Linked DNA regions of Homo sapiens. The protein of the gene in region 2 binds, or shares a complex with, the protein of the main gene of each other region. Each region holds a gene or a part of one and is shown on either strand. Other genes may lie near its edges. The genes, in order: SNRPF, RBM48, SNRNP40 and SNRPE.

Region 1 (4,724 bases), on a different chromosome or scaffold from region 2:
AGAACTTTTTTCTCTTCAGTGAACAAACCGTATGCCTTCAGCCTGAATGTCAGTTCCCAATTTCTGTTGTGCCCTGTCTGTACAATCATTTTAATTTTTAGAAGATGCTTCAATTTTAGCTGCAATATGTGCATTTAGCTTATATTGACACAGAATTAACATGTAATTTATTGACTACTAAGTAAAATAAGACAGTATATTATTAATACCAAGAAAATGTTTAATTTTATACGTTAAAAGTAGCTCAAAAATAACTTTAAAAGAAAAAGTTGCATTTAAAAGGTCTCAGCTAATAGATAATTTTACAAGAAAAGGTCTGAAATTCACCTTCATAAAAATATCTAAAGCATATAAATAATTATCCTTTATGGGAAAAAAAAGAATATTGGGCTTACAAAAGAAAAGCAACTTAAATGAAATTCAGTGGCTTTTAAAGCATTAGTTCAGTGAGTAATCTTTCCCAATTGGTTCATCATTTCAGCTTTGCTTGTAAATATCTGAATACAAATAGTTCACAAGTCAAGTTGAAAAACAAACAAATCTTTATTGTCTAGAAATATATATAAAAAAAATCCCCCACAAAAGATGCTATTCTCTCATTTCCCCATCTTCTTCCTCTTCTTCCACACCTCTGATATAAAGGACATTATTACACCTGTAAATAGAAAAAGTCGATTTTGTTGTTCCAACCAGAAACCATGTATGATATGAATTACTATATTTTTATTATGAAAATACTGAATACTATATTTATAATATTCTTGTCTTTAAAAAAATTTTTTAAATATATTCATTTTAAAAAAAAGTTTCACATAGATTTGTTGAAAAGCACATGGCACTTATTTTCCACCATATGGTTGTTATAAAATGACATCTTTATGATTTTCCAAAGGAAATAATTACCAGAATTTGGAGCTTTGAAGCTAGTACAGAAAATCAATATAACAAAACAGCCAGACCCAACTAAAATTCAAAACTAAGTTCCCGCAACAAAGGCCACTGCAAAAGGTTGCCACTGCAAAAGATTATAGCTAAGAGCTAGAAAATTAAACATCAACACTAGAAAAATCTTTTGGCCAGTTCCAAAACATTTGAAAACTTACCTTTGACAAGTTTAACAATTTCAAAGACTTCTGAAGTCTAACTGTAAAGTATTATAATAGTGATTTTTTAAAAAAAAGTAATTCCAAAATTGAGGCACTAATATATTTAGAACAGGTATTCCTAATGCTCACCAGTAACTCCTTACATATACTACTGCTGTTTGTTACCTTATTAAAACTTCACCCAGATGTCCAGACAAAGCTCCATCTATGTATTCTTCTGTATTTGCAAGCTTTCAATAAAAAGAAATATATTAGTATAATCACACAGGAGGAAAATATTACAATACAGCTAATATTGGTGAGAGAACTCATTAACTGAGACCTTTCTATACCAACAACTCAAATTTATCTATAATTAATAAACAGAAGATGAGCTTTCTATTACTATTGTAGTACTTTTGGTTTCATATAAACCTTCAACGAAATTAATATTCAAAGCTTGTTTCAACATAAGTTTCTGAATCTCCCAGGTTATGTAATATTTCTTTCTATTAGATATTAAAACAGTGTGTGGAAGAAGGCAGTCTCTAACTCATATTGAGGTGTCCAAATAGGTATACGAAAGCTATGGCTAACATGCCAAATACTTTTATATTAGTCAACAACCAAAGCAAATAATTGAGTAAGAATTTTCTTCTTTTCCTGTCTTTTAAGAAACAGGGTCTCCCTCTGTTGCCCAGGCTGGAATGCAGTGGCACAATCATAGCTGACCAAAACCTTGAACACCTGGGCTCCTCCTGCCTCAATCTCCTGAGCAGCTAGGACTAAAGGCATGTGCCACAAAGCCTGGCTACTTCGAAACAATTTTTTCTGTAGAGATGAGATCTTGCTATATTGCCCAAGCTGGTCTTGAATTTCTGCCTTCAAGTGATCCTCCTGCCTTGGCCTCCCAAAGTGCTGGGATTACAGGCATAAGCTATCACATCTGGGCCTGAATAAGAATTTTTAATTATGTACTAATAAACAGGGAAAAACAAGTTCTTAAGAGAAAGGTAAATAGTTAACAGTGACCTTTACAGCTATTTTGGTGAACTACAGCAAAGTAGTGTGTTTCCCTTATGGTATTATTATGAATCGAATGTCTGAGCTCTTCTTACTTTACCTACAGTTATTTTGGTGAATTATTTCTAATTTTATATCAAAATGTTTAGCTTTCCTTCTACATATAGGTAACAAGCTCTACTTGTAATTAAAAGAAAAATCACAATCAATGCCACTTGGGACTCAGAGAAGGAACTAAGGAGTGATGGGAGAGAGGGAGGTTTCCTTCACAATTAGGCACGTGGAAAAGGAAAAGAAAAATAGGGCTTAACAATAAGGATTAAAATAGGATGTTTCATAAGGCATGAAAAACATGGTAATGAACACTACTACTGGATGTTACTCCCTTTCTTATAGACAACAAAAAGTAATCTCCATTATCCAGATGATATAGTTTTGTCTGAAATATACGAGGTTGTTGAGACAGTTTGTATGTAACAGCTATAAGAAATAATGTATTAAGAGCAACTAATTTTTTGTAAAAAGTAATTACAACATTTAACATTTCTAAATTACACAATAATGTTCCAAATACTTTCTATCATGTTCTTCACCATCACTTAACAGGCTCTCTATGGCCGCCATTTTAACCTAACTTTCTGTCATTCGTCCCTTAACTCAATCTGCTCTGGCCTTTTTGCTGTGCCTTGAACACACCAAGCATGCTTCTGCCACAGGGCCTTTGTACTTGCTGTTCCCTCAAACTGGGATGCTTTTCCCCAGATACTCAACTGAGTTGTACACTAATTCTGGTATCTTCCAGAATTCGCCTCCTCAGAGAGGCTACTCTATATAATATTGCACATACTGTCTTCCCCCTTTTCTTCATGGATGGCATCTATCATGCCTATTATCACATTATATTACCACCTCCCACCACTAAACCATAAACTGTTGAGGGCAGGGACTTTGTTTTGTTCAATGCTATATTCACAGTGCCAGGCACATAATGGAATTCAATAAATATTTGCTGAGTGAACAAATTCAAACACTGGTATCAATATGGTTGACTACTCAAAGTGGTTGGTTACTCAGACATTTTGCAACTCTAGCAGGGTCACTAGCAAGCTATATTAATTCTAAAACAAATATTAAGTGGTAATTCTTTTATTATTGAGATGTTAATTTCCATAGCATAAAATTCACCCTTTTAAAGTGTACAATTCAGTGGTTTTCAGTATATTCAAAAACCTGTGCAACTATCACCACTACTTCCAGAATATTTTCATCACAATTCATATACTTCCCAGATTTTTCTATGGTCTTGGTAAATGACTCCTGTTTAAGGAATTTTCCACACTCAAACTATGCTTTGGGGGCCTTAATGTCATGTGCTCAGGTGGTAATTGCCTAAGTTAAGGAAAATCATAGCTCTCTGCCTACTTAAGTACTCCTTTTAGTACTCTGCTTACAAGTATGGAATCCTTGGATTCATGATTGGATTGACCACCTGTCTTGATAGCCTTTAAAAACCTGCCTGGAAACTACTACCATTAAAAAAACAACAAAAAATCCCAAACTAATTTTTTAAATGTGCAAAAGACATGAACAGGCATTTCTCCAAAGATAAACAAATGGCCAATAAACACATGAAAAGGTGCTCAACATCATTAGCCAAATGCAAATCAAAACCACAATAAGATACCACTTCACACCCATTAGAATAACTATTTTATAAACACCCATAGAAAATAACAAGTGTTGGTGAGGATGTGGAGAAACTGGAACCGTTGTGCATTGCTGGTGGGTATGTAAAACCACGTAGCTGCTGTGGAAAATAGTGTGACAGTTACTCAAAAGAAAAAAAAAAATTTCTCTGTCATCCAGGCTAGAGTGCAGTGATCACAGCTCACTGCAGCTTCAACCTCCCCAGGCTCAGGTAATCCTCCCAACTCAGCTTCCTGAGTAGCTGGGAATATAGCTGCCCACACCATCATGCCTAGCTAGTTTTTGTATTTTTTTTGTAGAGATGCAGTTTCACTATGTTGCCCAGGCTGGTCTCAAACTCCTGGGCTCAAGCAATCTGCTGCCTCAGCCTCCCAAAGTGCTGGGATTACAGGCATGAGCCACCACGCTTGGCCTCCTTAAAAAATTAAACATAGAATTACCAGTAATCCAGTAATTCCACTTCTGGGTATATACCCCAAAGAGCTGAAAGCAGTGACTGGAACAGACATTCGTATACCCATGTTCACAGCAGCATTATTTACTACAGTCCAAAGAGGGAAGCAACCCAGTGTCCACCAAGAGGCAAATGGATTAGAATGTGGTATATCCATATAATGGAATATTATTCAGTCATAAAAAGGAAATTCTGACACATGCTACAACATGGATGAACCTTGAATAATACACTACGTTAAGTCAAACAAGCCAGACACAAAAGGATAATACACAATTCCACTTACATGAGGTATTATGCACGGTCAAATTCATAGACATGTAGACTAGTGGTTACCAGGGGTTAGTTAGGTGGAGGAAGGAATGGAAAATTATTGTTTAATGTTTAATTGTAAAATTATTGTTTAATGGAAAATTATTGTTTAATGGGCAAAAAATTTCACTTTTGGATGGTAA
Region 2 (6,923 bases):
AAATTCTACTTCATATGAAGAAACTTAAGAGATGGAAATATGAAAGATGCCCTGAAATATCAAAAAAGGAAACTCTACCAGCTCACTGAAAAAAGGAAAAATGAACCTTATTGAGGAGGAAAAATACTTCTAATTATTTATTTGGTCAAAAAGTAGTAACCAGCTCCATAAAGCCACAATATGTGCTCAGTTATATTGAGCAAACTCTGCAGACCAATGTTCTAAGTTAATTTTTATGTCAAAATACTTCACTTGAACCACAGAGCCCTGGCTATTCAGGTAAAGAGAAGAAAGAGACAGCTAGAAAGGAGCGTCTTTTCCAGGAGTCAAATCAAATCAATCAATTAATTGACCTTCTTTGACCCAAACTGAGGTATCAGTATTACCAGGAAATCTGCAGGTAAAACCATACATCAGAATGCCTTAGGAATAATCAGGTCCAAAGCCTAGGGTATCTCTTGCTAACACAAGGGAAATGAAAATTGTGTGGCCATATCCGAATGGTGATTTAGGTTCGTTTGCATTCACTGTGTATATGAATCCTCTCCCCCTGCTGCAATCACATCAAGTTCTGAGTACAGAGAAGATAACTTAGTTGAAGCGGTGGTTCTCAACCAGAGGTGATTTTGTCCTTCAGTAGACATCTGACAATGTCTGAAGACCTTTTTGGTTGTCACAGATAGGGGGAGGCAGTACAGGCGTCTACTGGATAGAGGCCAAGGGTGCTGTTAAACATCTTAAAATGTACAGGAGAGCCCCCAAAACAAAAAATTATCCAGCTCAAAATGTCAACAGTGCCAAGGTTGAGAAATCCTGACTTAAAGCATCTACTGGGTAGTCAGTCCTGAAATAATGACTTGAGTAAACAAGAGAATACAATACTTGAAACACAGTACAGAGTATATCAAATGTGATGTGTCACATAACACAACAGAGAAGTATTGAAAGGGAGACAAATGTGGGCAACAGAGAATTGGAAAGCTATGTGGAGGAGGTAGGATTATTCCTTTTTAAAGACATGGAATTTGTATGGAAGGAAGAAAAATGACTGAGGGAAGAATGGCATGAGTAAGAGAACAGAAGTGGGAAGGAGATTGGTTATAGAAGAAACAGTGAGAACGGTAGGTTGGGTGATGCAGAGTGAGCTATAGACAAGAGGGCAAATTAGCTGCATGGCAATGGTACTGGCCTAGGAATGCCAGTTTCCTTACATGTAAAAGTACAGAAACGACCTAGATGCTTAAGGTCTCTATCGTCATTAAAATTCTATGATTCTAGGACAGTAGGTCTCAACTCTTTTGTGCATCCAAGTAGCCTGAATAAATTTTTTAAAATTAGAGATGCCTAAAGCCTATTCCCTAAGATTTTAGGTCTGATTTAATAGGTCTGAGGGTTGATCAGAACATCTGTATTCTTAAAAGCTTCAAGGTAAGTCTGACATAGGCCAGAAAACCATTGTTCCAACCCTTCTTCCCATTACTGCATGATCTGTATTATGCACTCAATGCTTCACCCCAAATAAAGTAATTCAAGTATTAACTCCCAACTTGTGAATCTTTCTGCTTTCATAATTATCTATGGCCTCTAACCCAAGAATTCTGGGAATCTATCCTAGACAACCAGAAATAAAATGATGTTTTCTAAACAAAGATGTGTTATTTTCAACGTCTGATTAAAATATAGTTTATCACTTCTAATGCCTAAAAATTAAGTACAATCTAAATGGTCAATCATAGTAAACAATTAAATAAATTATGGCAAATTTGTGCTAGAATACTAATTAACAACTTAAAATGATGACCTTTTAACAAAATAAAACACTCATAATAACATTAAATAAAAACACCAGGACACAAAACTGTACGTGTGTATACAGGACCTCATTTATGTTAAAAATAAAGATTAGAAACAAAACTGGAAGATTTGATCCAAACTGTCAACATTAGTCACCTCTAAGTTCTGGGATTATGGGTAACTTATTTTCTTGTTAATAATTTTCCATGCTTTCCAAATTTTCTATAAAACATAAATTCTATAAATTTATATAATTCATCGAGGAATAAATGTATAGATTTATGGAATCTATAAAGTAATAAACTTATTACATTGATAATTAGAAAGTAAAGTTGACCTATTCTGCTAATATGGGCTGAACAGAAACAGCAATTTGTTCCAGGGCTAAAGACATTTACATTTCAAAAAGATATGCATGAATTAATTCTTATAAGTACTTCCCGAAGGCTCAAAATTTAAAACAAAGATCAAGACCACTAAATTCTTAAACAGTGATGAATGTAAGGTAACAACTACATCTTAGGATCAAATTAGAGTTACTGTAAGAAAGCATTCCTACTATTAAGTGCAGATTTGAAAACATGTTGAAAAATCCCATCGAAGCTGACAGAGCACTGAACCAACTTCTACCTGGAACTTGGTGACAGTGACTGATTTGTCTCTAGCCATAAAGCCCATCAAAAACCAAAAGATTGTCTACTTAGTGGTAAAAAATAATAACGACGATGATAGGAGGATTCTGCTGAACTCATGTTTTCAGTGGACCAAAAATATCTTCCCCTAGGTATGGGGAAGTAACTCAAGTGGAAAGAAGGGATGCTTGAAATTATTGCAAACTCTATTCATTGCATAGATTAGCCACTGGTGGGTACCATGCATCCAGGATTTATGAGGATTTCAAATACGCCGTCCTTTTGCCCCCATAAGTACACTCAAACTCGTGAGACCATGTGCCTCTATTTTTAATTATGAAAATATGGACGCTGTATCTCCACCAGTGGTTAGAACTGTGAAACATCCTAACCACAACGTCCAGAAGGGCGACTGATCGCAGAGCTTCAAGTGATCTTAACTACGTTATGTGTTCCTAACACACTACAGCTGTGTTCCGCGTCAGCGACGCAGGGCAGAACCATCATTGTATTAACCTTTCCCGCTCATGGGACGCGGTGCTTAGTCCCCGGGAACCGACAGGGGCTCCGCCAACAACTCTGCGTCCCGCTCTCGCGGCCCGGACGGCAGCAGCGCAGGTTAACTGGAAATGGCTGGCAAGGAAAACACCTTTTAAAATAATAAAAACAAACCACTTCTCAGGAGCTTTTCCAGCCTGGAATAAGGAATATTTATAAAAACAGTGGTAGAATATTAGGACGTTTCTAGGTTCAGTTTCACCAAGTGAAAAGACCTGGGATAAGACGAGCCCAGGGCTGCACTGGACTTGTGGGATCCAGAGACTACCCAGAAGGGCCCTGCCGTCGAGGGACCCTGATCTCTGCGCGCTTCGGCGGCGCCCGGGTGGCAGCCGGTGTCCCGCCGCGTCCCTGAGAGGCTTCGGCCTCGTCCGACCCCAGGCTGAAGATCAGGTGGCTCGGGGCCGGCAGGTTACCTGCAGCAGATGCAGCTGGGCCACGAGACGCCGCGGCAGGTGGAGGAAGCAGTCGCGAGCGTTGGTGAAGGCCACAGTCACTGCCGCCCCGCCTCCCCCAGCACCCGCCAGGCGATCGCTGCCCCACATCGTCCCGGAGCGTCGCTCTGGGTTCGCCCACCCTAGCGCCGCAAAGGACCCGGGACCCGGCAGGCCGAGGACGTCGGAGCCGGAGGAGATCGATCGGCCCCGCCCCCTGCGGCCCCGCCCCCTCTCCCCGCTGCGCATCCTGCCGTAAGCCTGTAGTGGGTGGGACAAGAAAGCTTCTGTCACCCACCGCGCCTCTCCGCCGAGCCGCTCGGGGGCGGCACCTCGTTCATCAAATCTTCGCACGCAGGAAACGATGGCCGACGCTGTCGATTCTCCAGCCAATCCTGGCACTCCTTAACTCATCCCGCTCTCTTATTGGATAAAAGGGAGCTCAGTAGGGCGGATGTTGTCCTCCCTGCGAGGATCAAAGTAGGCAAGATGGCGTCGAGCGGCGGGGAGCTAGGGAGTTTATTTGATCACCACGTCCAGAGGGCGGTATGCGACACACGGGCCAAATATCGAGAGGGACGACGGCCTCGTGCTGTGAAGGTAAAGTGATTTTGGTTTCATTCGCTCTCCTCGGTAGCTTTATGTGAGTGCTAGCGCCATATGACCAGCCTACGGAAATAAAGGCACGACAAGGCTTCCGTCAGATCTGTCTCTCGTTAGAGCTGGCGTGAAGAACCCTCGGTCAGTTACCAAAGATTCTCACGACGCCTTTGGTCAAGTATTAGAACATCAACTCCACGAGAATAGGCCTTGGTTTTAGTCATTGGATCTTCTGTGTTTACAGTACTACTTGGCACAGGTAAGCACTCAGTGAATATTCGTTGAGTGATTGTTCCCAGTGACTTCTACCGACTCAATTTCTGGAAAAAAATGTCGACTGAAGGTAGTCTGTTATATGCCTTAGGTAGCCTCTCACATGGACTGTTATTCTTTATGCAGAAGGAATGGCAGAAATTTCATTTTGTGTTCTTTTGCTGACTGGGTTGAACAGATTATTTCTTGTTTTCAAAGTTCTCTTTAAAAAAAAATAGAGGCAGATTCGTCCTAGGCTTATTTGCGAAATACGTTTAATAACTCTGCATTTCTTTCAGGTATATACAATCAATTTGGAATCTCAGTACTTATTAATACAAGGAGTTCCTGCTGTGGGAGTCATGAAGGAATTAGTTGAGCGATTCGCTTTATATGGTGCAATTGAACAGTACAATGCTCTAGATGAATACCCAGCAGAAGACTTTACTGAAGTTTATCTTATTAAATTTATGAACTTACAAAGTGCAAGGTAATGTGCAAGTTAAGAAATGACTCATTTCCTCATTTCTTCCATTCATATTTCTGTCATTTTGGCCCCAAGTTTCCCTCATTCATAACTGAATTACCCCAAAACGTAATCTAGCATATCTTCCTCCAGCCTTTTTAAAAGTTAACTTTACTGAAACACTGTATCCATCACATCATTCCCATGCTTAACAATTTAATGTCCTGTAGCTTGGTAGAGTAGAAGTTGGGTTTGGCCAGGCACGGTGGCTCACGCCTGCAATCCCAGCACTCTGGGAGACCGAGGTGGGCGGATCACGAGGTCAGGAGTTTGAGACCAGCCTGGCCAACATGGTGAAACCCCCCTCTCTACTAAAAATACAAAATTAGCTGGGTCTAGTGGCGCAGGCCTGTAATCCCAGCTACTCGGGAGGCTGAGGCAGGAGAATCGCTTGAAACCGGGAGGCAGAGGTTGCAGTGAGCCGAGATTGCGCCATTGCACTCCAGACAGGGCAACAAGAGGGAAGCTCTGCCTCAAAAAAAAAAAAAAAAAAAAAATTTGGGTTTGAAGCCTGGGCGTGGTGACTCACGCCTGTAATCCCAGCACTTTGGGAGACCGAGGCAGGCAGATCACTTGAGGTCAGGGGTTCAAGACAAGCCTGGCCAACATGATGGAAACCCCTCCTCTACTAAAAATACAAAAATTAGCCGGGTGTGGTGGTGCGGACCTGTAGTCCCAGCTACTCAGGTGGCTGAGGCATGGGAATTGCTTGAACCTGGGAGGTGGAGATTGCAGTGAGCAGAGATCATGCCACTGCCCTCCAGCCTAGATGACAGAGCAAGGCTCTGTCTCAAAAAAAAAAAAAAATTCTGGTTTGACGCCAGGCACGTGGCTCACACCTGTAATCCCAGCACTTTGGGAGGTCGAGGTAGGTGGATCACCTGAGGTCAGGAGTTCAAGACCAGTCTGGCCAACATGGTGAAACCCTCACTCTACTAAATACAAAAATTAGCCGGCTGTGTTGGTGCAAACCTTTAATCCCAGCTCCTGGGGAGGCTGAGGCACAAGTATCACTTGAACCCAGAAAGTGGAGGTTGCAGTGAGCCAAGATCATGCCATTGCACTCCAGCCTGGGCAAGAGTGAGACTGTCTCAAAAAAAAAAAAAGAAAAAGTTGGATTTGATCCCAGCACTTTGGAAGGCCAAGGTAGGCAGATTGCTTGAGCCCAGGAGTTCGAGACCAGACTGGCCAACATGGCCAGTATTTTGTATTTTGTAAAAATACAAAAATCAAGCTGGGTGTGTTGGTGCATTCCTGTAGTTCCAGCTACTTGGGAGGCCGAGGTAGGAGAATCAGTTGAGCCCAGGAGGTGGAGGTTGCAGTGAGTCTTATGGGCCACTACACTCCATCCTGGGTGATGGAGTGAGACTCTGTCTCAAAAGAAAAAAAAAGTTGGGTTTGGAGTAAGTTTTCCATTTCCACTGCTTACTAGCTTCATGATCTTGGGCAAGTTATTTAACCTGTTTAAGTTTTTCCTCTTCCATAAAATCTGTATGGTAAAGGGACCTATCTACTTCTTGGGGTTGTATGAGGATGAAATGAGATAATCCATATAAAGGTGTATCCTGGTCAGAATACAGTAAACATTAGCTATTGTGGTTTCTACTGTTACTCCTTTCTGCAAACTGACTCAGTTTTTTCCAGCCTTCTATGTGACATAATCCTCTGCTCCAAAAAGGCTGAAGTATGCAGTGCCTTATCTATTTTTATATTGATCTCTGTTCTCCTCACTAATCTGCTCTGAGACCCATCCTTCTCTGGCTATTACAATTCATATTTTCTTTCTTGTGCTATCAGTAGAACTCATAGTCTACCACAAAAGCACTTGATTTTACTGGGTCTTGTGTGGTTTTCTCAGGCTGCTGTTATATGTAATTTCACTTTCTTAACCAACCTGCCAGCTCCCATGGTTAGGGAAACATTTTCTAGAGCTTTTCTGTTTTCTATAGTACGTAGTCTGGTAGGCTCTGAAGTAAGACATCTGGATTTGAATCCTTGCTCCTCAAACCAGACTATGAGCATGGCTAAGTTACATAATGTCCCAGTGCTTCAGTTTCATTACAGTGTTGTTTTTAGGTGTTAATTCAAGTGAAGCGCTTATGACATTGCCTGGCATATGGTGAAATC
Region 3 (6,756 bases), on a different chromosome or scaffold from region 2:
AGGCAGAGTAAATACGGGCTCTGTTCATTAAAGATCAGATGCAAGTACACAAAACCAGGTTCTTTTTTTTTTTTTTTTTTGAGACAGAGTCTTGCTCTGTCGCCCAGGCTGGAGTACAGTGGCGCAATCTCAGCTCACTGCAACCTCCGCCTCCCAGGTTCAAGTGAGTCTCTTGCCTCAGCCTCCCGAGTAGCTGGGATTACAGATGTGCATCACCACACCCAGCTAATTTTTGTGTTTTTAGTAGAGACGGGGTTTCATCATGTTGGCCAGGCTGGTCTTGAACTCCCGACCTCAGGTGATCCGCCTGCCTTGGCCTCCCAAAGTGCTGGGATTACAGGCATGAGCCACCGCGTCTGGCAAAACCAGGTTCTTTTAGAACTTATTTATCACCTCCTGGCTGCTATCCTTCTAGTAGGAAAAAAGTATTGTTACTGATAATTATTCTTTGTCATTTTCATGGAAGTAAGTAAACCTAAAAACACAGAAAAGGGGGGAAAAAAAAACAAGTGAGCAGCTTCTTGGAAGTTTAAATGAATTGTATTCTGTGGCCACATCATGCTCTATTCTGATTTATAGCAATCAAGCCTCAAAAAAAAGACAGCAATAAATCCAATCCACATGGCTCTTGTAAAAAGGCATCTATTTGGCTTTTAATACAAAATGATATAGAGAAATACAGAAAGAAAATATCATACAAGCCAGTTACAAAAAAAAAAAAAAAATCCCAACCAACAAATTTGTCACATTGGGCCTGCATTAGAAAACAGGAAAAAAGAAAAAGAAAAAAAAAAACAGTCCCTGAAATCTGGCAGGTGGTTTTTAGAGGCCACAGGGAGCTTGCCTTAGTCATCCTGGTGAAATGGGACAGAAGTGGTTTTTGGAATATGGCCACCGCCTCCTGTTTCTTGCTAGCAATGGTCATCTGAAGGGAGGGTGCTAGCCTGGACATCCAACATTTGGCATCACTTATGCAGTCTGAGGTCTCAAAGACAAGCGGCCTTGGAGTCTTCCAGTCCATATCTTCACTGAATCTCTCCCATATACAGTCTCTTGTCACTCGATGCTGAGATAACTGAGGTAAAAAGAACAGATAACTAGAAATAATGAAGGCTCAAGGAGACTTGGTGCTCAAGGGCTCTTGTGTCAAGAGCCAATTCTGGTATAAAAGAGCAATTGGACTTAGCTTAAATTCCCCTCCTAAACACCATCCACAGGAAATTGTAGCCTGGCTTTTCAATCCAAGTCCTCTAATATCATGAGGATGACTGTACTATGGGAAATACATTATCAGACACTAAATACTGACATCCCTTGTCAGTCAAACCCCAAGAAAAAGACTTTCCCAGTCATTCTAGAAGAGAGGAATCTATGGCTGTGCCAGTCATTTTGTAAATGTGCTTCTGCTTGTTATACTTAGCCCTGGAGAAAGTTACAGTTTCTCCTTTAATTCAAGGCTGAAATTATTTGGTTTAGCCAGCCAAAAAATTTTAAGCTGAAATTTATATCTAAATATTAAAAAGTATCATTCTTGGCCGGGCGCAGTGGCTCACATCTGTAATCCCAGCACTTTGGGAAGCTGAGGCGGGTGGATTACCAGAGGTCAGGAGTTTGAGACCAGCCTGGCCAACATGGTGAAACCTCGTCTCTACTAAAAACACAAAAATTAGGCAGGTGTGGTGGTGGGTGCCTGTAGTCCCAGCTACTTGGGAGGCTGAGGCAGGAGAATCGCTTGAACCTGGGAAGGCAGAGGTTGCAGTGAGCCGAGATCGTGCCACTGCACTCCAGCCTGGGCGACAAGAGTGAGACTCTGTCTCAAAAAAAAAAAAAAAAAGTATCTTTCTTTTAATCAAATACATCATTGAAACAGACTTGATGGAAGTAAATTTAAAAAAAAATTAGACTTACCAACTTCCCTTTGAGATCAAGAAGAAAATGGAGCATTGCTCTTACTCTCACCACTTATGAGCAATGGTGAGACTGACATTGATACCCACATAAAGACTGTTTGCAGCTGGGCACAGTGGCTCACACCTGTAATCCCAGCACTTTGGGAGGCTGAGGCGGGTGGATTACTGGACGTCAGGAGTTCGTGACCACCCTGACCAATGCGGTGAAACCCCGTCTCTACTAAAAATACAAAAAAAAAAAAAAATTAGCTGGGCATGGTGGTGGGTGCCTGTAATCCCAGCTGCTTGGGAGGCTGAGGCAGGAGAACTGCTTGAACCCAGGAGGCAGAGGTTGCAGTGAGCCAAGATTGCACCATTGCTCCAACCTGGGCAAAACAGCGAGACACTGTCTCAAAAACAAAACAAAACAAAACCCAACAACAAAAAAACCAACAACAACAACAACAAAAACACCCAAAGGCTGTTTGCATGGAAATTCGTATAAAACAGATACCCGCTTTTGACTCTCTATTCCCAGGATCCCTACGGGGAGATTTCCAGTTTCCCTTTCCCCCTCGTTGGGACAGACTTACTGATGGGCTCATCAGGGTGGAAAGCCACTTCATTGATGGAGCCAGCATGGCCGGGCAGCTTATACAATATTCTCCTGCTTGTGGTATCCCACACATAAACAAACCTGTAAGGTATCATGAAAAGCAAGGGTAAGTCCTCTTAGAGCTGGGGGTAGGACAGAGGCATGGCTTTTTAAAGGAAATGGAAGCAACAATTATTTACTTACCTTACATTTACTGAACCATGTTCTGGCTTTTAGAAACTAGGAACACAGAGTTTGAATAAGACATGGACTCACCTCTTGAGCAATGGGGTGGAGAAATAAGAATAACTAAAAATATAAGCATGACTGGCATGTTTGAATACAAGCTTCTGAAATGGGAAACACCACAGGGAAGAAAAGAAAGTTTTTCCTGCAGACATCACACAAAAACCTTTTTCAGAGTGTCTAGTATAATTAGGCTACAGTTAACTTCATACTCATCCAGGAAATCTAAAAGGTAACCCAACTCATGGCAGGGTGGGAGCCTAGGCTGCTGATCCAGATGAACTTTTTAGTACTGTATTCAAACAGAGACCTGAGAAGGGACAGGAAGTGTCTGGTATATAAAATATTTATAGTGTTTGCTAACCTAATACTCACTTGAGCCAACTTTTCCATTGAATTAACAGGCAGAAGGAATACTGAATTCTAGAATGGGAAGGGGCCAAGAGAAATCAGCTTGTCTAGGCTGGGAGTGGTGGCTCATGCCTGTACTCCCAACACTTTGGGAGGCCGAGGTGCGTGGATCGTCTTAGGTCTGGAGTTTGAGACCAGCCTGGCCAACAAGGTGAAACCCAGTCTCTACTAAAAATACAAAAAATTAGCCAGGAGTGGTAGCGTGTGCCTGTAATCCCAACTACTCGGGAGGCTGAGGCAGGAGAATTGCCTGAACCTGGGAGGTGGAGGTTGCAGTGAGCTGAGACCGTGGCACTGCCCTCTAGCCTGGGTGACAGAGTGAGACTCCATCTCCAAAAAAAAAAAAAAAAAAAAAAAGAGGAGAAAAAAGAAATCAGCTTCTCTAAACTCCTTATTTTAGAGATAAGAAAACTGGGGCACAGTGACGTTTCCAAGGCAATACAGTTCATCAACGGCGTAACTAAAATTAGAACTCTTCAAAAAAAAAGAGCTTATTAGAGAATGTTCTTAGGAAGACAAAATTTTTATTTGTCATTAAAAAAAATTATGAGGCTGGGCATGGTGGCTCACATCTGTAATCCTAGCACTTTGGGGGGCCAAGGCTTGAGCTCAGGAGCTTGAGACCAGCTTGGACAACATGGTAAAACCCCATCTCTACAAAAAAATTAGCCAGGTGTAGTGGTGCATGCCTGTGGTCCCAGCTACTTGGGAGGCCAAGGTGGGAGGACTGATTGAGTCCAGCACGTAGAGGCTGCAGTGAGCTGAGATGGCACCACTGCACCCCAGCCTGGGTGACAGAGTGAGATCCTGTCTCAAGAAAAAAAAAATTATGTTTTTTTTCATGCTGTATAATAAAGGTAATGTAAGAGGCTATAGAGTTTTAAGCTTCTTTCTACTGAAATACTCTGAATACTACTGAAATACTACTGAAATACTGAAATAACACAATGTACTTTCTGCAATGCTAGAATAAATAAAAAAAAACTTCTACATTTCTCTTCAAAAGTGATGAATAATAACAGAAGATGTCATAAAAATGTGATTTTTTCCTTATTCATTCTATAGTATTAGAGCCAGTATTTTTATCATCACAGGCCATAATTTTCACAAAAGTCTACATATTATCACAGAATCTTTTTGTTTTTCTCAATTAATTTTTTTTTTTTTTTTTTGTAGAGACAGTGTCTTCCTATGTTGTTAAGGCTGGTCTTGAACTCCTCGCGTCAAGCAATCCTCCTGCCTTCACCTCCCAAAGTGCTGGGATGACGGGCATGAGCCACCATGCGTGGCATATGGCACAATCTGTATGTATTTAGAGAGCCCCTGAAATCAACTCTGTTCCTAATCCTCTGAGCCAATGATGACTTTATAGCCTTATCAAACTGAAGTAAAACTTGAAGGGCAAGTTGAGTGAACTGCTGAGATTTTATGAGCTCATCTAGGCTCTCCTGAAGACTGTGTCCCAAAGTAGTACTTCTGTATAACTGATATGATATGGCTTAGGAAGAAGAAATTGTTTTTCTTATTCAAGCTTGCCTTGATGTCCTGTGCTGAAGGTTTCCTGCCATGGAGCAGACAGAAGTGACCAGGAGCCCAGCAGGGGGTTCCTATGTTCCTGACCACCTCTTCAGTAGCCACAGAAACTACAGAGCTGAACCCAAGACTCTGGAGCTCTTAATATACTCTCGTATTTTACTTTCACTTACCCTCCATAAATGTACTGGCTAAAAAAAAAAAAAAAAAAAAAAGTTCCTTTGACCCTCAATCTTGCTTAAGTCATTAAAGGGTAAAGTATAGAGCTATTATCTTAATCTGATGATGTAAAATTCATCTGTTGGTAAATATAAAGGGCTGGTAGTTTTGAAGCAGGTATTTAAAATTATTTACATATTTTGTTTTGTGCAATCAACAACTCACCAGTACTTGATCATAAAAATGGTACATTCACCAGTACTGGATTATAAAATGCCTAGTTCTAATCCAACTTACACTTTTGGTCAAAAATGCAAATAAACAAGAGCTTCTTAATTATACTATTTAGCTGTCATCAGCTAGGCTCCATAGAAAGTAAGTTCTGAACAAGATGGAAGAGAAGCAGGAACTCCATCTGTCTAGACTCCATGGCTCTGATACTCATGCCCTTCCTACTGTCTTCTTTCTTGTCATGCACAAAAAGCTGGTCCTCATTAATTCAATAAAGGGCAGTATGGCATAGTGAAAGAGTATGAGCTCTGGAGTCAGAAAGACTGGGGTTCAAGTCTCAGTGCAGCTATTTACTAGCTAAGTAAGCTTAGCTCAGAGAAGTTAAATAATTGCAGATCATTTAACTTCTCTAAGCTTCTTAGTTACAATGATGGAGAAAATATTGATCTCATAACTTTGTTGAGAAAAATAATGAGGTAATATATGCAAAGTGCCTGGCACACAGAATTAATTATAGCTATTGTTATTATAAGTACACTCATCATCAAAACAGAATCTCATGAAGTCAATGGGCTGAATAAATCACTCTTGGCCGAGAGACTGGTCAGCCTTCCCGTAGCCTATAGGACTATTCAGAGTTTCAAGTTTGAATATGAGGAGGTGATCTGTAAGTTATTAGTTAGTAGAAAGGAGAAGTTTGCCAAATCCAGGCCAAGCTGAAAAGGAGTTTTCTGAGGATACATTTCCCAGGCACATAAAAGACAGAATCCCAGATCTCCAAGGGTTTACACTTCAAGGTCTCACTCTTGATGGCTGCCAATTAGATGCTAAATTTAGAGGGGTTCCTTGCCCTCTCCTTACTTTGGCATGGCAACATTTGGCAGGAACCAGAAGCCTTATGTAACACAGCTGCTTCTTGACTTGGGGCCAATTGGTGAGGTGGCCTGTCAAATCTTGCCAACCCCCAGCAGGTAGAGAGGGATAGGCTTTCCTCATACCACGCTTTCACATGTGATTTTGTTTTTTTTTAAAGAGATGGGGTCTTGCTCTGTTGCCCAGGCTGGAGAGCAGTGGCATGATTGCAGCTCACTATATCCTCAAACTCCTGGGCTCATGGGGTCCTTCTGCCTCAGCCTACCAAGTAGCTGGGACTACAGGTGCACACTACTATGCCTGGCTAATTTTTTAAATATTTTTTTTATAGAGACAGGGTCCTGCCATCTTGCCCAGGCTGGTCTTGAACTCTTGGGTTCAAGCCATCCTTCCACCTCAGCCTCTCAGAGTGTTGGGATTAAAGGTGTGCACCATTGACCACATGTAAAGTTTAAAGGAACAGTGGAGAGGAAAAGAGAAAAAAAGGACATTGCAATTCAGAAAGGGCCAATGCCAGAAACAAACTGCTCATCAGAAAAAAAAAGTATGTAAATATAATTTAAAAATTTAATTACAGCTGGGTGCAGTGGTTCATGACTGTAATCCCAGCACTTTGGGAGGCCGAGGCAGGCGGATCATGAGGTCAGGAGATTGAGATCATTCTGGCTAACACGGTGAAACTCCATCTCTACTAAAAATACAAAAAACTAGCCAGGCGTGGTAGCGGGCACCTGTAGTCCCAGCTACTCGGGAGTCTGAGGCAGGAGAATGGTGTAAACCCAGGAGGTGGAGCTTGTAGTGAGCAGAGATTGCACCACT
Region 4 (7,035 bases), on a different chromosome or scaffold from region 2:
TGGAAAAGTACAACTTAAAAAGCAAACACCACAGGCTCCAGTAGAGCAGGAAAGCAAGCAGAGATTTCTAAATACAGAGCTCAATTGTAAGAGTTCACTGTACCTTAATTCTCACTATCATCATTTGCTCTGTCAAAAATAGAACCTTCCATGTCTTGATCCATTCAGAATAAGCCACAGCAGGCACAGCTCTGCTTCCACAGGGCAGCCAGGTCAGAAAGGCCACACAGGGAAATGGAAAAGGCAGCCAGCAGGTTTTCTTAGAGATTATACTCCTCTGGGCTTTTATCCTTCTTCCCAGCTATTCTGGTGCCAAGAAAGCTGCAGGGAGGTCTTTGCTCTGCTCTGAAAAAGCTTCAATTCAATCTTCTCACCAGCAGGGCTGAAGCAGTCTCAGGGCTGTAACTCCCTCTGCTGCCCAATGTTTTCTTTGCATGTTGTGATCAGTTTAATTAATTTCAAACTCAAATGTTAAAAGAACTAATGCAGCCCTTTATTTCAAAACATAATCAAAAGAGCATGAGTTCAGACAGGAGGAATATAGATGGAATGCATGGTTCAAAGCTGGATACACTTCTGCATTCACCTACAAATCTCCTCTATCTCGGAAAGGATTTCTTTTATTCAGTTTCATGAAAAGTCTCCTTCACAGGCATGTAGAAAAGCAGGAGCCAGACTTCTTGGTCCTTCCTCACCCGTCCTTAATAACAACATGGCCTTTAGCAGAACTTAAGGCAGGCCTTATTCATCTTTCAAGATCCAATTTAAATAGCACTTAGAATGAGGCATTAAAACCACCTGCTTACCTGTCTGTTTCACTGTATTGATTCAACAGTGTCTAGCTAACAGCAGATGCTCACTATCTAACAGGATTCTAACTAGAACCATGTGCGATACTGGGGGAAGGGAAACCTGTCCATATAAGAATTCAACCAGCAATCACTGGGGGAAGAACCAAAATTCTTAAGAGATAAGAATAAGAGACAGGTGTATTTCTCCAACATACCATTATTCTGCCTAACAATTTGCCTACCAGCTATGCTTGTGGTCCTTTTCAGATTACCAATCTCAGTCTCTTTCCTGTAAACTCTTAACTGATTTTTAATGTACTTGAAAGGCACTTCATTCTTTCCCTATATCCAAATACTTCTCACATTCTGATCTTAGCGATAAAATTCACAAAGACCTCACAGTGACTCAATGAGAGTGTTGAGCAATACTGACCCCATTAAATAATGTACCCAACATATTTAGGTTAGAAACTCTGGTATTCCAGCATCCAGAACTACAAGTGATGAAGACTTTTGTTAGTGCAATAACTCTTATTTATTTTTCTGAACCCTCCCCTTCTCCACCTCCCAATACTGGAAGCTTACCCATCAGGCAGAATTCCTAATCTGCCTCAAAATCTACAGGTCCAAGCTCTGCGAATACCAAGTGCTCAAGGCAACTGCGACCCTTCAGAAAACTAAATACCAGCAACGAATGGTGTTACTGTGTAAAAAGTTTCTACTGCTGAATAGTAAGAAGCAATGTAAATTTTTTAATACAAACAATCCCATAGTATTTATTGCCATCTTGTAGTAACACGAGGGTAATCAAAACAATATGAATAAATGTTCACATTGGACAAAGGACATCTAAAAACAAACTGTATCCTTCTCAACAATTTCTCACTTCATTGATCATTTCTAGTTGGAGACACTTTGTAGCAGAGTAATATTATCTCCTTTTAGCATGATCCGACCTGCAACACAAAAACAACAAAAAGCTATTAATAGCCACACACTCAGATGTTTTACTCTCAGAATTTTGTATCCAGTTTTTGAACAATATTTTGAAAATGCTTTCTTATAAAAATATGTGAACATTTTCAAGTGTCCATATAGTGAAAGGCTTTCTGGCTCCATTAGAATACATTTATCTTTTCAAGAGACTAACATAGGTAGATGACATTTCATGACAAATATCATTTCTATGGACTAAGTCAACTCAATAGGCCTCATACAACATTTCCCAATGCTGAATTTGTAATAAAAGTTTGGAAATGAGTCGTATGTCAAGTTTGGGAAATACAGCATATTATAACTCCATTCTTAAAGCTGTTAGTATATTAAAGACTCCACCCTATCTCTACTAAAAATACAAAATTAGCAGAGCCTGGTGGCGCGTGCCTGTAATCCCAGCTACTTGGGAGGCTGAGGCAGGAGAATTGCTTGAATCCGGGAGGCGGAGGTTGCAGTGAGCCAAGATGGCACCATTGCACTCCAGCCTGGGCAACAAGAGCAAAATTCATCTCCAAAAAAAAAAAAAAAAAAAAAAAAAAAAAAAAAAGACTCCATCCTACAATAAACAAACCTGTTTTACCCAAAATTTCCTAAGGTTATTTAAGACAATACTTTTCTGAGAAATTTATAAACATCTTCAGGAACACTGGTGTTCACTGGTAGAACGGTTTGAGACACGTTGATCAACTCCAACAGTAATTAAACTGTTCTACTTTCCCAGGCTTCTGCAGGTATTAATAACATTCTATTCTACAGGATAAATACTACCATGGGAATTCAACAGTTGGTAAATAATTTATGAATAATATGACCTCAGTAAGGCTAAGCTTGCCCGTCCTGGCAAGACATCTTTAAATCTAAAAAACCCGGCTGGGTATGGTGGCTCACACCTATAATCCCAGCACTTTGGGAGGCCAAGGTGGGTGGAATGCCTGAGCTTAGGATTCGAGACCAGCCTGGACAACACGGTGACACCCCGTCTTCTACTAAAATACAAAAAATTAGCCAGGTGTGGTGGCATGCCCTGTAATCCCAGTTACTTGGGAGGCTGAGGCAGGAGAATCGCTTGAACCCAGGAGGTGGAGGTTGCAGTGAGCTGAGATTGTGCCATGGCACTCAAGCCTGGGAGACAGAGTGAGACTCCGTCTCCAAAAAAATAAATAAATAAATAACAATAAATCTAAAAAACCCAGGCTTTCATAAAAATAGTCTAAGCAGGAAGCAGCCAGCGAAACACCATACTGCTTCTCAGAATCTACTTTCCATATATCTAGTTCAGGTTGAAGAGAATCCTGAGGGTCTGAAAGAGAGACACCTGAAACCCACCACTGATAAAAGTATTAGTGAGCATTTAACAAATAAAGACAAAATGCCTAAATAAACCTCAAGTGAATGGGATGTTAACAGAAATGATTCAGTGTGTCTTGATGAAACCGTGAATCCTAAGACCATTCATTAACTGGGTTAAGAAATACCATTCATTGCCAGGCTTAGTGGCTCACACATGTAATCCCAGCATTTGGGAGGCCGAGGCAGGTGGATTGCCTGAGCTCAGAAGTTAGAGACCAGCCTGGGCAACACAGTGAAACCCCGTCTCTACTAAAACACAAAAAATCAGCCAGGCGTGGTGGTACACGCCTGTAGTCCCAGCTACTTGGGAGTCTAAGGCAGGAGAATTGCTTGAACCTGGGAGGCAGAGGTTGCAGTGAGCCAAAATCACGTCATTACACTCCAGCCTGAGCGACAGAGACTCTGTCTCCAAAAACAAAAGAAAGAAATACCATTCATTGTTCAAATATTTTTTAGTTTCTATTATGTGCCAGGCATTGAGTTAGGTACTGAGCACACTGGGATCAAAAAAGGCATGACTCATACACTTACGGTGAAGCATCTGATAACAGGAGAGACACTAATAAAATAATTTCAATAATAAAGGTTTTACTACAAACTCAGGGAGCACATAATCCCGCCTTCCCCCATCCCCAGCAAAACCAAATTAAACTTTGAACTTTTTAGAGCAGGGCTTCCTAACCCCTGGGCCACAGACCAGTACCAGTCCTGGTCCCTGTTAGAAACTGGGTCACACAGCAAGAGGTGAGCAGTGGGCGAGGTGGCGGAGCTTCATCTGTATTTACAGCCACTCCCCATCACTAGTATTCCCGCCTGGGCTCTGCCTCCTGTCATATCAGTGGAAGCCTTAGATTCTCATAGGAGCGCAAAACCTATTGTGAACCGGGCAAAGAGGGATCTAGGTTGCGCACTCCTTATGAGAACCTAATGCCTGATGATCTGTCACTGTCTCCCATCACCCCCAGATGGGACTGTCTAGTTGTGGGAAAACAGGCTCAGGGCTCCCACTGATTCTACATGATGGTGAGTTGTATAATTATTTCATTATATATTACAATGTAATAATAATAAAGTGCACTATAAATGTAATGTGCCTGAATCATCCGAAAGCCATCCCCCACACCCCAGTCCACAGAAAAATTGTCTTCCACAAAACCGGTCCCTGGTGCCAAAATGGTTGGGGACCACTGTTTTTTTTTTTTTTTTTGAGACAGAGTCTCGCTGTGTCGCCCAGGCTGGAGCGCAGTGGCGTGATCTCAGCTCACTGCAAGCTCCGCCTCCCAGGTTCGCGCCATTCTCCTGCCTCAGCCTCCCGAGTAGCTGGAACTACAGGCACCCGCCACCATGCCCAGCTAATTTTTTTTTTTTTTTTTTTTTTTCAGGAAAGACAGGGTTTCACCATGTTAGCCAGGATGGTCTTGAATTCCTGACCTCGTAATCCACCCGCCTCGGCCTCCCAAAGTGCTGGGATTACAGGTGTGAGCCACTGCACCTGGCCTAGGGGACCGCTGTCTTAAAAGAAGTGATATTTGATCTGAGCTCTACAGACACAAGGAATATCATATACAAAGATTAATGGTTGGGCAAATCTGCAGATTCAAAGAACTGAAATAAGACAAGTGTTGCTAAAGCTCAGAAAGTGAGGCAGTGATACGAGATGAGCAGAGGGAGATAAGACTAGATCATGAAGATCATTAGATTTGCAGAATCATTAGATTTTTTTTTATCCTAACAGCAACAGGAAGTCATTGCAGTATTTCAAGCAAAGGGATGACATATGTTCAGACTGGTGTTTTTAAAAGATGAGTGAGGCCTGGAAAGCAAACTGGAGGTAGCTGCAGAGAAATCAATTAGTAAGCTGAACTGGAAACTGGTGCCATTCAATAAGGCAGGAAATAATAATACAATAGCTCTAAACAGTGTGAGTTGGAATTGAGTTTGCTTTCTGATATGCTGACTTTAAGAAGCCTTTGAAACATTCAAGTAGAAATGGTGAATAGGCCCAGACAAACAAATTTGGGAGTCAGTATTTATAGATGGTAACTGAAGCTGTACTCCAGTGCCTAGGCAGACAATACTGAATGACAGGAGGGCCTAGAACCAAGCCTGGAGCAACTCATTTAGTGATTGGGTCCCAAGAATGAATATATAAGTCTGAAAAATAGCCAGAAGTGAAAAATAAAAACCCAAGTATAATATCGTAGAGCCAAGGTGTGATACTGCAAAATATTTACTTGGTCTTCAATCCCATACAACTCCTAAAATCCTTAGAATCTCTAAGATGTTGCCTTTTTGTATGCTAATGATTGACTGATGGCCAGCAGCCCCTACAACGTTTCAGCATGGGAGCTGCTCACTGAAAGGACCAAGGCATTAGTGATGTCGGACTTTCAGCCCCACCCTCCCACCCGGGGAGGAGGAAAGGAGCTGAAGGTTAAGCTGATCACCAACGGCCAATTTAATCAGTCATGCCTACATAATGAAGCTTACATAAAAACTGAAAACAATGGGGTTCTGATAGCTCAACATGTGGAGGTTCCCAGAGTGGTGAGCTTGCAGAGGGCACAAAAGCTTCGCATCCCTTCCTATATGCCTTGCCCTACGCATCTCTTCATCTGTACTTTTTGTAATATCCTTTATAACAGACCAGTAAATACAAGTGTTTCCCCGAGTTCTGTGAGCTGCTCTAGCAAATTAATCAAACCAACGGAGGGGTCATGGGACCCAGTTTATAGCCAGTCAGTAAGAAGCACAGGTAAAACAATCTGGAGCTGACAATTAGCATCTGGTGGAGGACTGAGGGGCATGGAAGGCAATCTTGGGGATTGAGCCCTCAACCTCTGGGAACTGACGCTATCTCAGGTAGATAGTGTTAGAACTGAACTGAACTTGACGACTCTGAGCTGATGTCCACTGCCGAACTGATTGCTTGCTTGGTGTGTGGGGAAATATGCCCATACATCTGGTCACAGAAGTCTTCTGTGTTAATTATTGTCAACTGAGGAAACAGAAAAATCTACTTGGGTTTTTCCTGCCACTCAGACACGGGAACAAAGCGCTTTAAGGAGGGAGCAGCCAACAGTGCCAAATGCTGTTGAGAGTTTAATAAAATGAGGATTAGTACTGATCATTAGATTTAATACCACTAGTCTTTGGTTCCCTTGGTGAGAGCTCTCTGGGTGGAGAAGCCAAAATGGAGTGTGGTGAGGAGTGAGTAGTAGAGGATGATTTCAAAAGTGTACTACTACTCTGAATAATAACTTCTCAAATGCAAAATAAATTCAAACATGAACTGAGTTGCAGGTCACTGAATTCTGCAAGTGAATAAAATATTTCTAGAATTCTGTAAGACCACTTCTATCCTTACCCAGTTGTTTTCTTGACTTTGTTTTAGAATGAATCTCTTCTGCATCATCTAATACAAGGTTCATATACTCATCAAAACCCTAGAAAAATAAACAAACTGTTATCTTCAAAGAAAATCACATTCAAACCATTTTAAATGAGTATACCTATGCAGATAAAAACTCCAACTAACTTCAAAGATTCACTCTTCTCAAGCCCCACCCCACCTTCCACCCAAAGTTTTTTTTTTTTTTTTTTTTTTTTTGAGAAAGGATCTCACTTTGTCTTCCAGGCTAGAGTGCAGTGGTGCAACCTCGGCTTACTGCAGCTGGACCTCCTGGGTTCAAGCAATTCTTCTGCCTCAGCTCCCCCCAAGTAGCTGGAACTACAGGGCGCACCACCATGCCTGGCTACTTTTTGTATTTTTGGTAGAAACAGGGTTTCATCATGTTGCCCAGGCTGGTCTCGAACTCTGGAGCTAAAGTGATTCATCATGCTCGGCCTCCCTAAGTGCTAGGATTACAGGCGTGAGCCACCTTGCCCAGCAAAATAT

Evidence for each region.
Region 1: RBM48 (region 2) and SNRPF share a complex: the UniProt entries of both Homo sapiens proteins name them as parts of the minor spliceosome.
Region 3: RBM48 (region 2) and SNRNP40 share a complex: the UniProt entries of both Homo sapiens proteins name them as parts of the minor spliceosome.
Region 4: RBM48 (region 2) and SNRPE share a complex: the UniProt entries of both Homo sapiens proteins name them as parts of the minor spliceosome.

What each region holds. Positions count from the first base shown.
Region 1 is NC_000012.12:95,861,936-95,866,659, reverse strand, and holds the end of SNRPF (small nuclear ribonucleoprotein F), read right to left. Parts: intron 1,337-4,724; coding exon 1,272-1,336; intron 656-1,271; coding exon 589-655; 3' UTR 520-588; downstream 1-519. UniProt on the Homo sapiens protein: Plays a role in pre-mRNA splicing as a core component of the spliceosomal U1, U2, U4 and U5 small nuclear ribonucleoproteins (snRNPs), the building blocks of the spliceosome.
Region 2 is NC_000007.14:92,524,907-92,531,829, forward strand, and holds the start of RBM48 (RNA-binding protein 48), read left to right. Parts: upstream 1-3,888; 5' UTR 3,889-3,907; coding exon 3,908-4,018; intron 4,019-4,569; coding exon 4,570-4,760; intron 4,761-6,923. Other genes in the region: peroxisomal ATPase PEX1, read right to left, coding at 3,401-3,529. UniProt on the Homo sapiens protein: As a component of the minor spliceosome, involved in the splicing of U12-type introns in pre-mRNAs.
Region 3 is NC_000001.11:31,259,047-31,265,802, forward strand, and holds the end of SNRNP40 (U5 small nuclear ribonucleoprotein 40 kDa protein), read right to left. Parts: intron 2,587-6,756; coding exon 2,483-2,586; intron 1,076-2,482; coding exon 1,026-1,075; 3' UTR 522-1,025; downstream 1-521. UniProt on the Homo sapiens protein: Required for pre-mRNA splicing as component of the activated spliceosome. Component of the U5 small nuclear ribonucleoprotein (snRNP) complex and the U4/U6-U5 tri-snRNP complex, building blocks of the spliceosome.
Region 4 is NC_000001.11:203,864,589-203,871,623, reverse strand, and holds the end of SNRPE (small nuclear ribonucleoprotein E), read right to left. Parts: intron 6,584-7,035; coding exon 6,505-6,583; intron 1,748-6,504; coding exon 1,692-1,747; 3' UTR 472-1,691; downstream 1-471. UniProt on the Homo sapiens protein: Plays a role in pre-mRNA splicing as a core component of the spliceosomal U1, U2, U4 and U5 small nuclear ribonucleoproteins (snRNPs), the building blocks of the spliceosome.